2 linked regions of the Homo sapiens genome follow. The protein of the gene in region 2 purifies or fractionates together with the protein of the main gene of each other region. This does not show direct contact. Each region holds a gene or a part of one and is shown on either strand. Other genes may lie near its edges.

Region 1 (3,500 bases), on a different chromosome or scaffold from region 2:
AGCAGCAAGAGACACCCAAACACGCTAAGCCCATGATGCAGCACTGGCATTTCCTACAAGGATTTACCAACAGCTCAAACCCTTGGGAAAGAGCCCTTCTCTCAGTTTTTAATTTTTATGCTGAAGAACTGTGTGTCACATGGGGAAGAGTAGTTACCATTGACCAGGTGATAAGCCCTATCTGGTTTGGACTCTAAACCCTACCTATCTCTGGACCCCTTGGACAGAACTTGACTGAGATTTCTTCCCCCAGGGAAGTGCTCTTGCTTCTCTAACAAGTCCTCAGCCTCACGATACCTGAACACAGAATGGTCCCAGCCTCAACACGCTGTGACCCTCCGCTGTGGAGCTGGTGACTCTTGCTCTCACCTATGGCAGTGGGCCTGCAGGTGCAGCTGCTGCTCCATGCAGATCAGTTATTTGTGAGTTGGGAATTGCACTCGAGAAGAAGGTGTAAGATAGACAAGTAAAAGCCCAATTCCTTAGTGTCACCATTCTTATACCCACATTGCTGAAACTGATTAACCCCCTCATAAAGCTGGTGGAAAATCTATCATTGGTTCAGAGTGAGGGTACATAGCAGTTGCTTTGTCAAATATCTCAAAAACATTTTAAGACAAATTTCACCATTAAGTGGTGCATCTTAACGTTGAATCCCATTTAAGTTATTTTGCTGTAGGTCATTGGGGAGTGCTTGGTTCCACACACAGAATCAAGATGCTGCTGCTTTGAGTCCTAATGGTGGCTTTGTGAAAGCATCCTCAGAATCTGGGCAGCATCAAGCCTGCAGGCCAAGAATGCCTACCCAGAAAGCACCTGCCTCCTGAAGAGGCATCCCATTTTAGAGTCCTCTTCACACGCAGAAATTTCTTTTTCCTTGAGGTCCTGACCCCTGACACCTGATGATAGATTTTAATGACATTATAATGCTCTTAATTCACAAATATTTTAAGAATTGGATTTCTTTCAAATGGGTTTTGGCCCTGGAGAGAACTAGCATCTTGAGAGGTTAGGCACACGAGGAATGCCCCTGCCTATGATCTGCAGGGAACTGCCCTGGAGTTGAGGCTCAGCAGCTGAAGGAGGACTTTAGGTAAACATTTTACCTGTTTGTTCTTAACTGGCACCTCCGGTTCCGGGGTGGGGGTGAGGATGTGTTGAGTTTTAACGTATTTATTGCATTTGTTTGTTTTCTGTTCATTTCGTTTTTTGTTTTCTCATTGAGTGGTGTCACTTGTCTGGAGGCTATTGTTATGAATGCCTGTCCTTTCTAATACATCTGTGTGCCCTTCATGGTTTGCCATACATTGTTTCTGTGCTTGCCTTTTCTCCCTTTCATTCTCCCTCCTTGCCTTTTCTCCCTTTCATTCTCCCTCCTTTCAGTAAACTTCCTTTAAAGGACTCCACTGAGAGACCCTGTTCTCAGAAGCAGCAAAGAGGTGTGGCCCACACCCTCATGGCTTGCTTGTCTGGCCTAGGGACTATGCAAATATGGACCAGACCCTTGGGGTATTTTCTCACATTATATTGGCAAACAATTTGTTTACCCATTGGCTGTTTTTGATAATTTTTTATCAGTCTGCAGGCTTTTGTTTTTTACAGTTAAGGATAGATAAACCTTTTTTGTGCTAAGAAAAGCCTTTTGCAAGAATGTCTTCAAACCAAGGTTATTTGAGGGGCCACAGAACTTCATTCTTAATGTGGATATGGTTATGAACATCACTTCATAATCTCTTCTAGATCTTTTTTCTCCCCTTGCTTACTAACCCCTATTTAGAGTCTGATTTCAGCAGCTCACAATTTTATTTTACGTTTAGATGCGTAAGAGGGGTTCCGTTCGAGGCACGTCGGCTGCTGATGTCTAGATGAGTCCCCTGTAGGGTCAGAGACAATGTCAAACTGTGTAAGTGAAGACCTGGGTAAAAAGATGTTTCGAAACCTGTACCTTTTTGGTGATGGGCAGTTAACTTGCTGAGCAGAAGCTCTAAGTGTTAAATGTGGTTTTATTTTTAGAATTTAAAAGATAAATATTTTAGAAATTAATAGTGAACACTTATTAATAGTCTTTAAAAATTTTACCTGTGGACCAGGTTGAATTTAGTAATCCTGGGTTAGTTTTTAGTGTTATGGGTTAGAACCCAGCTGCCAGGTGCTGTTACTCATCATGTAGCACATTGTCCTGGAAGCCAGCTGATTTTTCAATACTGAGTTAATTGACCTGGTTCTTTGTAGAACCATTTGTGGTTAGTAAGGAAATATGCAAAATCACTTGAGATCAAATAAAGATCCTCTATCCCATACCATACGAGCCAACCTCAATAATTTATTTTGGCTGCAATATTTTCTGTGCACCAGAAAGTCTTCCTTGATATTTCGTCTTCAGTTGTTACAGTTAGCTTTACTCTGCGTAAATGCACTTTAGTTTTAATTTATGGTGTGAACCATTTTTGTGGTCTTATTTCTCTAACACATTATATGCCCATATAACAAATTTTCCCAGAGATGCAAAAAAAAAAAAATCAAAATCTCCCTCACAAATTGAAACCAGTGTGAGTAAACAAAAATCAACAGTGTGCTGTCATCATTTGTTTATACTGAACTATAATGTTTATTATAAAGAGAACGAGATGTAGCACTCCCCTCCCTCCACTGTGGTTCTTTGCTGCCCCACATGAGCTACCTGCTCTTTAATTTTTGAACATTGGGATGAATGAAATGTTCAGTTGTGAGAAAAGCTAGTTGTGCCAAATAAGAATGAAGTAACTCTTCCAAGATTCCCCCCAAACACTTTTAAATTCCATGTTCATTAAAAAAAAAAAAATTTAAGTTATTGTTACTTTTGTTAAACTCTCCTAAGTTTTTGTGATTTATTTCTGCCTCGACTTTATTTTCCCCTCTGATGAGACAATATATTGTGGCATTAGTAGTAAGACCAAAATCTTTTTGAACAGATGAAAATTGTAAGATGCAGTAGTTGGGGTACATTTTCTGCCAAAAGTTTTGATGCATTTGGAGAGTGTGTGTGACGAGCTGCTAACATTTCCTGTCTCTGTATTTTAACACATTTTGCACTGTCTTTCACTTTTCTTACAGTTACGTAATCAAGGTCAAGTGAGGGGAACAAGCGCAGCCAGTGATGAGTGAAGAAGAATCTGACCAGTATCTTGCAGTGTTGACGTTTCCCAGATGTGTGCTTGTGATGATACACACACATGCACAGGTTCTCAACCACGTGTGTATATATGTATGTGTGCATATGTCTGTAGCTGTATATAAAGCGCATGTAGAGCTACAGATCCAGATACACACACTTGTGTATATATGTACATACAGACATACTGAAGGGATTAGTACAATTTCTCCAAAGTACTGTACCTATCTTCAGCAAGAATGCAAAAGAAAATATTTTCAATATATATACCTGGAACAGATTTTAATAATTATCAGAGTAATACCATTAATGGACAAATTGACTGCAATGTAATACTAGCTGGTATGTT
Region 2 (4,994 bases):
AGTATCAGCAAGGAAAATGAGACCCTGGTTTCATAATTAATTAAATCTGCAGAATGCCAATTCCATTTGGTGTTAAACAGTAACCCAATATAAACCACTGATTCTGGAATAAGATTAAAAAAAAAATACCTGAGTGAATATAACAATATGGATAGACCAAAAAGAAAAAAAATCTCACACACAATAATCACTGCAAGAAGATCCCACAGGTTATAGAAAACATAAAGGAACTTTAATATCCAAACATTCAGGGTAAAGAATACTGGATTAATCACCCATTAAGTGTAAATCACTTCAGGTTCTTTACAGTACCAGAAAGTAAAATCTAAATTTTGCATATTGCAGAGAATGAAACCATTTTAAAAACTTTAATTTCCTTACCTGATACTAATACCAGTATGATTTTTAGACGGAAAAACTAAGAGTAAGATTTAAACCAAAGATAGAGGTGTTCCTGAAATGTGAATTTGTTCAGTAGTAACCTTTTCATCATGAGTACTGATACCACTTTCTTCTCAGAAAGTAGTCAATGTACATTTTAAGATTTGTGCAATAAGCCAATATGCTGGATAATAAAAACTGTTATTACTGGAGATAGTCAAAATGAAAGAAAACTATTTAAATTATTTATGCCCAAATAATTTACCCTGCAGTCCATGAGATGCACAGGAAATAATTTTTTTTAATAAGAGAACAATGAGGGTCCTAAAGTAGAAACATAAGCCAGAAGAAATCTAAAAATAGCTTCCTGATATTTTATTTTAAAATATTTCATTTAAGCTGCTTTTGGTTGCATGCCCTGATCTGTAGAAGTTAACAAGGAAATAAAATTTCCAAGTATTTAAAAAATTTACTCATCTTCCATAAAGCGACTTTTAATGTATCAACACTTAAAAATACACAGTGACTTAATGAAATATCAGCACAACTGCATAGAATTGAGCTCCAGAGAATTATACACTCGAGCTGTCTTTCCTGGGCTCTGGTTTATAAGGGTATTGGCTTAGAGACCAGCTTGGAGTCATTTGCCCCTACCCGGGAAATGCAGGCCAGGAAACTTAAGATTTTGCGGGCCTTTTCTGTTTCTAGGTAAAATGCAGGGAGCTCCCTGAAGGTCTTGAAAACCATCAACCATTCAAATATGTATACTGGGACCTTTCCTCTTGAGTAAAGGAAGAAGGAGGTTTGTGATCTTCACTGAAAACAAAGTGAAACTTCCCACACAAGTCTTCTAAGAGACTCTGAAATATACTAGAAATTTCAAAACTAGAACAATGCCATCAAAGATTAAACCTCTTAATGCTTGGAGCCACCCCAAAATAATAAAATCGGGAACTCCAGGAAAACAGGTACCAAACGAATCAAAATAATGATTGCACTGAGGATTCTCTTATCTGAAGGCTGTTTAAAGAGGTAGGATTTTAAGGTTTTTTTTTTGTTTATCTTTTGGCCTCTGAACATTTAAAAGATGCTTTGCCCAGCTGGTCCTTCAGGCAAAATTTGGAGGTCACAATGAACTCCAAGCCTGACACAAAGATATTCTACAGTTTCACAGCTATCATTTGTACATATTAAGTTGATTCACTCTTTTTGAGCAAATCTACCTAGAAAACGGCAAATTAATATATTCCTTTACATACAACTTTGTGTCTCAAAATTCTTGAAAAACAAGAGCAGATGACTTTGTATTCAAAGACTACCAAAGTATGTATTTGATTTTCACATGCAAACAACTTAAAACCTTATAAATCTCATGTCAACTCTGCATGATGCCTTGAAGGAAATGACATACAAAGTTTGCTAACTGTGCAAAATATTAAATTGCTAAAACATTTTACATAATGAAATAATACATGTAAATGTTGAAGTTGACACATGAAATTAACATGGCATAAGAACTTATCACATTTCAGATATTTTCTTTAGTAACAAGTTTTTGTTTTTATAGTTCCTGGTACACAGCAAAGTTTATCACGAAAGATAAAAATCCTTTTAAACAAATCCAACAGGAAATTCTTGAGGCACCTTCTCATATAAAACACAAGATGAATGCAATTATCAATCCATCTGAGAAAAGTTTTCAATCTAAATGAACATCATTTTTTCCATTTAAGTATATTTTACAGAACTTTAATAAGGCAAGACAAATTTGTGAAAAAAGATGTAGATACAAAAATGATGTAAACTAATAATTTATATTAAAAAACCCCAAAGGGATAACAGTGGAGATGGGACAGCTCAAACAATGCCTTTTTTTAACCTAAAACAGAATTGTGCACAAGCTGAAGATGACAAACAACTTCTAGACTCTGCACAGTTTTGGTTTTTTTTTTTAACATCTTTATATTACATGTTTTAAATCATATCAGGAATGCAAACTAGAACTGCACACTACTTCAGTGGAAAAAAGTTCAATATTGTGCAATTTTCTGCCTCTTAATAGTTAAAAAGTGGCAGCAATCCCTGCATTTGTGTTTGAAACAAGGATCTGAGAAACTTTATCAAAAAAGGTAATGAAGGCAAAAATTGGCAGACATCCAGCATCTTGTTTCTTTTTAAAACAATGTGGATGATAAGTAATTTCATGATTAAAAATGAATCTTTTAAATAAATACATTGTATCTGACATTTGCACTGACTGATTTGATAAATCTTTAAGTAAACAACGGCTTTACTACACTCCCTGTAGCCTCAAGCCACTGGCTTTAGATTCTGGAGTCCTTATTCACTGGGTTTCATACCCTGCCACTCGATACCCAGAAGGCTGATTGGGCAACATGCTGCCATTTTGCCCTTGAGGCGGTTGCACTCCATAATTTGGTCCCATCCATGGTGCAGAAGACTGTGTCTGACTGGTGGAGAATGTGAAAGAAGCAGAGGGGAGAGGAAATCCACTGATTAAAATAAAGTATTGGCAAGAACAAACAACAAGAACAAATATGGGAAATGGGAAACATACTTTTTCTTAATCCCAAATAGAATAATTTATGCTAGGGAAAATGAAATCTTTTACTAAAGTTTTTTTCTCTTAAAAACAAGCATCCCTGTATGTTTAATTTGGACAGTTTAATTTTGTTAGAAATTAAAGCTAAGAAAATACCCTGAACTTATCAACATTCATCTCCTTTGAATATAGAAAAACCTAACCCCATTCTTGGAAAAGAAAGCTATCCATCTCATCTCTATGCCTTGGTTGAACATATTTGCTGAGGAAACCACTACCTGAAAGAGTCAGGTAGGTTCCCTACAACGAAAAAGGAACATTATACTACTCAAAGAAGAAATCAAAACAATTATTAGCATATGAAAGCTCATAAAAATTCATAACATTACAAGATTTTCTTTTCTTTTCTTTTTTTTTTTTTTTTAAGACAGGTTTTCATTGTGTCACCCAGGCTGGAGTACAGTGGTATGATCTCAGCTCACTGCAACCTACGTCTCCCCAGGCTCAAGCGATTCTCCTACCTCAGTCTCCCGAACATCTGGGATTATAGGCACGCAACCACCATGCCTGGCTAATTTTTTTTGTACCTTTTGTAGAGATGAGATTTCGCCATGTTGCCCAGGCTGATCTTAAACTCCTGGACTCAAGTGATCCGCCTGCCTTGGCCTTCCAAAGTGCTAGGATTATAGGCATGAGCCACCATGCCCAACCACAAAATCCTTTTTTTTTTTTGAGACAGAGTCTTGCTCTGCTGCCCAGGCTGGAGTGCAGTGGTGTAGTCTCAGCTCACTGCAACCTCCGCCTCCCAGGTTCAAGTGATTCTCCTGCCTCGGCCTCCCAAATAGCTGGAACTACTGGTGTGCACCACTACACCTGGCTAATTTTTGTATTTTTAGCAGAGGTGGGGTTTCGCCATGTTGGCCAGGCTGGTCGCAAACTCCTGGCCTCAAGTGATCCACCCACTTCAGCCTCCCAAAATGCTGGGATTACAGGCAGGAACTACCACGCCCAGCCCACTAAATTCCTTTTTAACCTCTCAAGTATTTTTATTTCCAGTGTGTTTTTCAGAAATGTAAGTAAAATAGTGTAATTCAGGGTGTATAAGGAAGCTTGCAATGTAACAAGGCATATTGAAAAAACCCTTTGTACAGAAAAAAGCATAATGAATACAACAACTAGCATCAAACTCAGTGTATATAAGAATGGCTAAGTGACCATTAGTCATGTGAAAAGCTTAACAACTATTAAGCTCTTATTTTCTTACTAAAAAACAATTTTAAGTTCTTTCAAGGCTATAGTTACGCTTTACATAAGAGGCCCTATTACCCACTAATTCTTAAAATTTCTTCCTACTTAAAATTTCTTTAGACATTTTCAAAGGTTAGTAAAGGAAGACATAAGATATGCTTACTTAAATCCTTGCTGGTTCCATGCCTGGCCATACATTCCATATGCAGGAACTTGCCAACCATTAGGCATATACTGGCCAATTTGTTGTGCATTTCCATACCACTGGCCCCACTGGCCATAAGGTTGGGGATATCCAATTTGATTCTGCTATTAAATAAAATTTAGTATTACTTGAAGTTAACTATATATATACAATCCTAATATGCTGATACCACAAATTCTTAGCCAAAACACACAGGGCCATCATTACAATTAAAATGACAGGATAAACAAGAGTTGACTGCTAAAAAAAAAAAAAAAAAAAAAAAAAACAAAAAACAACAACAAAACAAGTGAGGTTATACTGCTGTAACTCTACGTGATACTCTGAATGGCATAGTTTTTGGAAGGCATCAGTTGATACCCTAGTAATAAATGTTAAACTTAGTAGAATGTTTAAGTGTTTGGTATACTATCTACATGATTGTTTCCTTTAGATAGGGAAGATGTGATTAATTATTTCTATATTCAGCTTACTTAAGACACTTATATAGTTTAGGATTTGCTTACTCCCATCTCTGTGCTCCATTTACAGTTTCCTCATAGAAATCTTTGTGGAATCAAGTTTGAACCACTAAAGCTGCCTGGAAAAAAAAGGCAG

Evidence for each region. Proteins that work in one complex are often made in the same cells at the same time.
Region 1: the proteins of TIA1 (region 2) and PITPNB fractionate together in Homo sapiens (co-fractionation; one large-scale study listed by BioGRID). This does not show direct contact.

Annotation. Positions count from the first base shown.
Region 1 is NC_000022.11:27,853,257-27,856,756, reverse strand, and holds part of PITPNB (phosphatidylinositol transfer protein beta isoform), read left to right. Parts: intron 1-1,817; coding exon 1,818-1,865; 3' UTR 1,866-1,903; intron 1,904-3,093; coding exon of another isoform or gene 3,094-3,144; 3' UTR 3,145-3,500. UniProt on the Homo sapiens protein: Catalyzes the transfer of phosphatidylinositol and phosphatidylcholine between membranes. Also catalyzes the transfer of sphingomyelin.
Region 2 is NC_000002.12:70,209,994-70,214,987, forward strand, and holds part of TIA1 (cytotoxic granule associated RNA binding protein TIA1), read right to left. Parts: intron 4,502-4,994; coding exon 4,356-4,501; intron 2,853-4,355; coding exon 2,726-2,852; 3' UTR 1-2,725. UniProt on the Homo sapiens protein: RNA-binding protein involved in the regulation of alternative pre-RNA splicing and mRNA translation by binding to uridine-rich (U-rich) RNA sequences.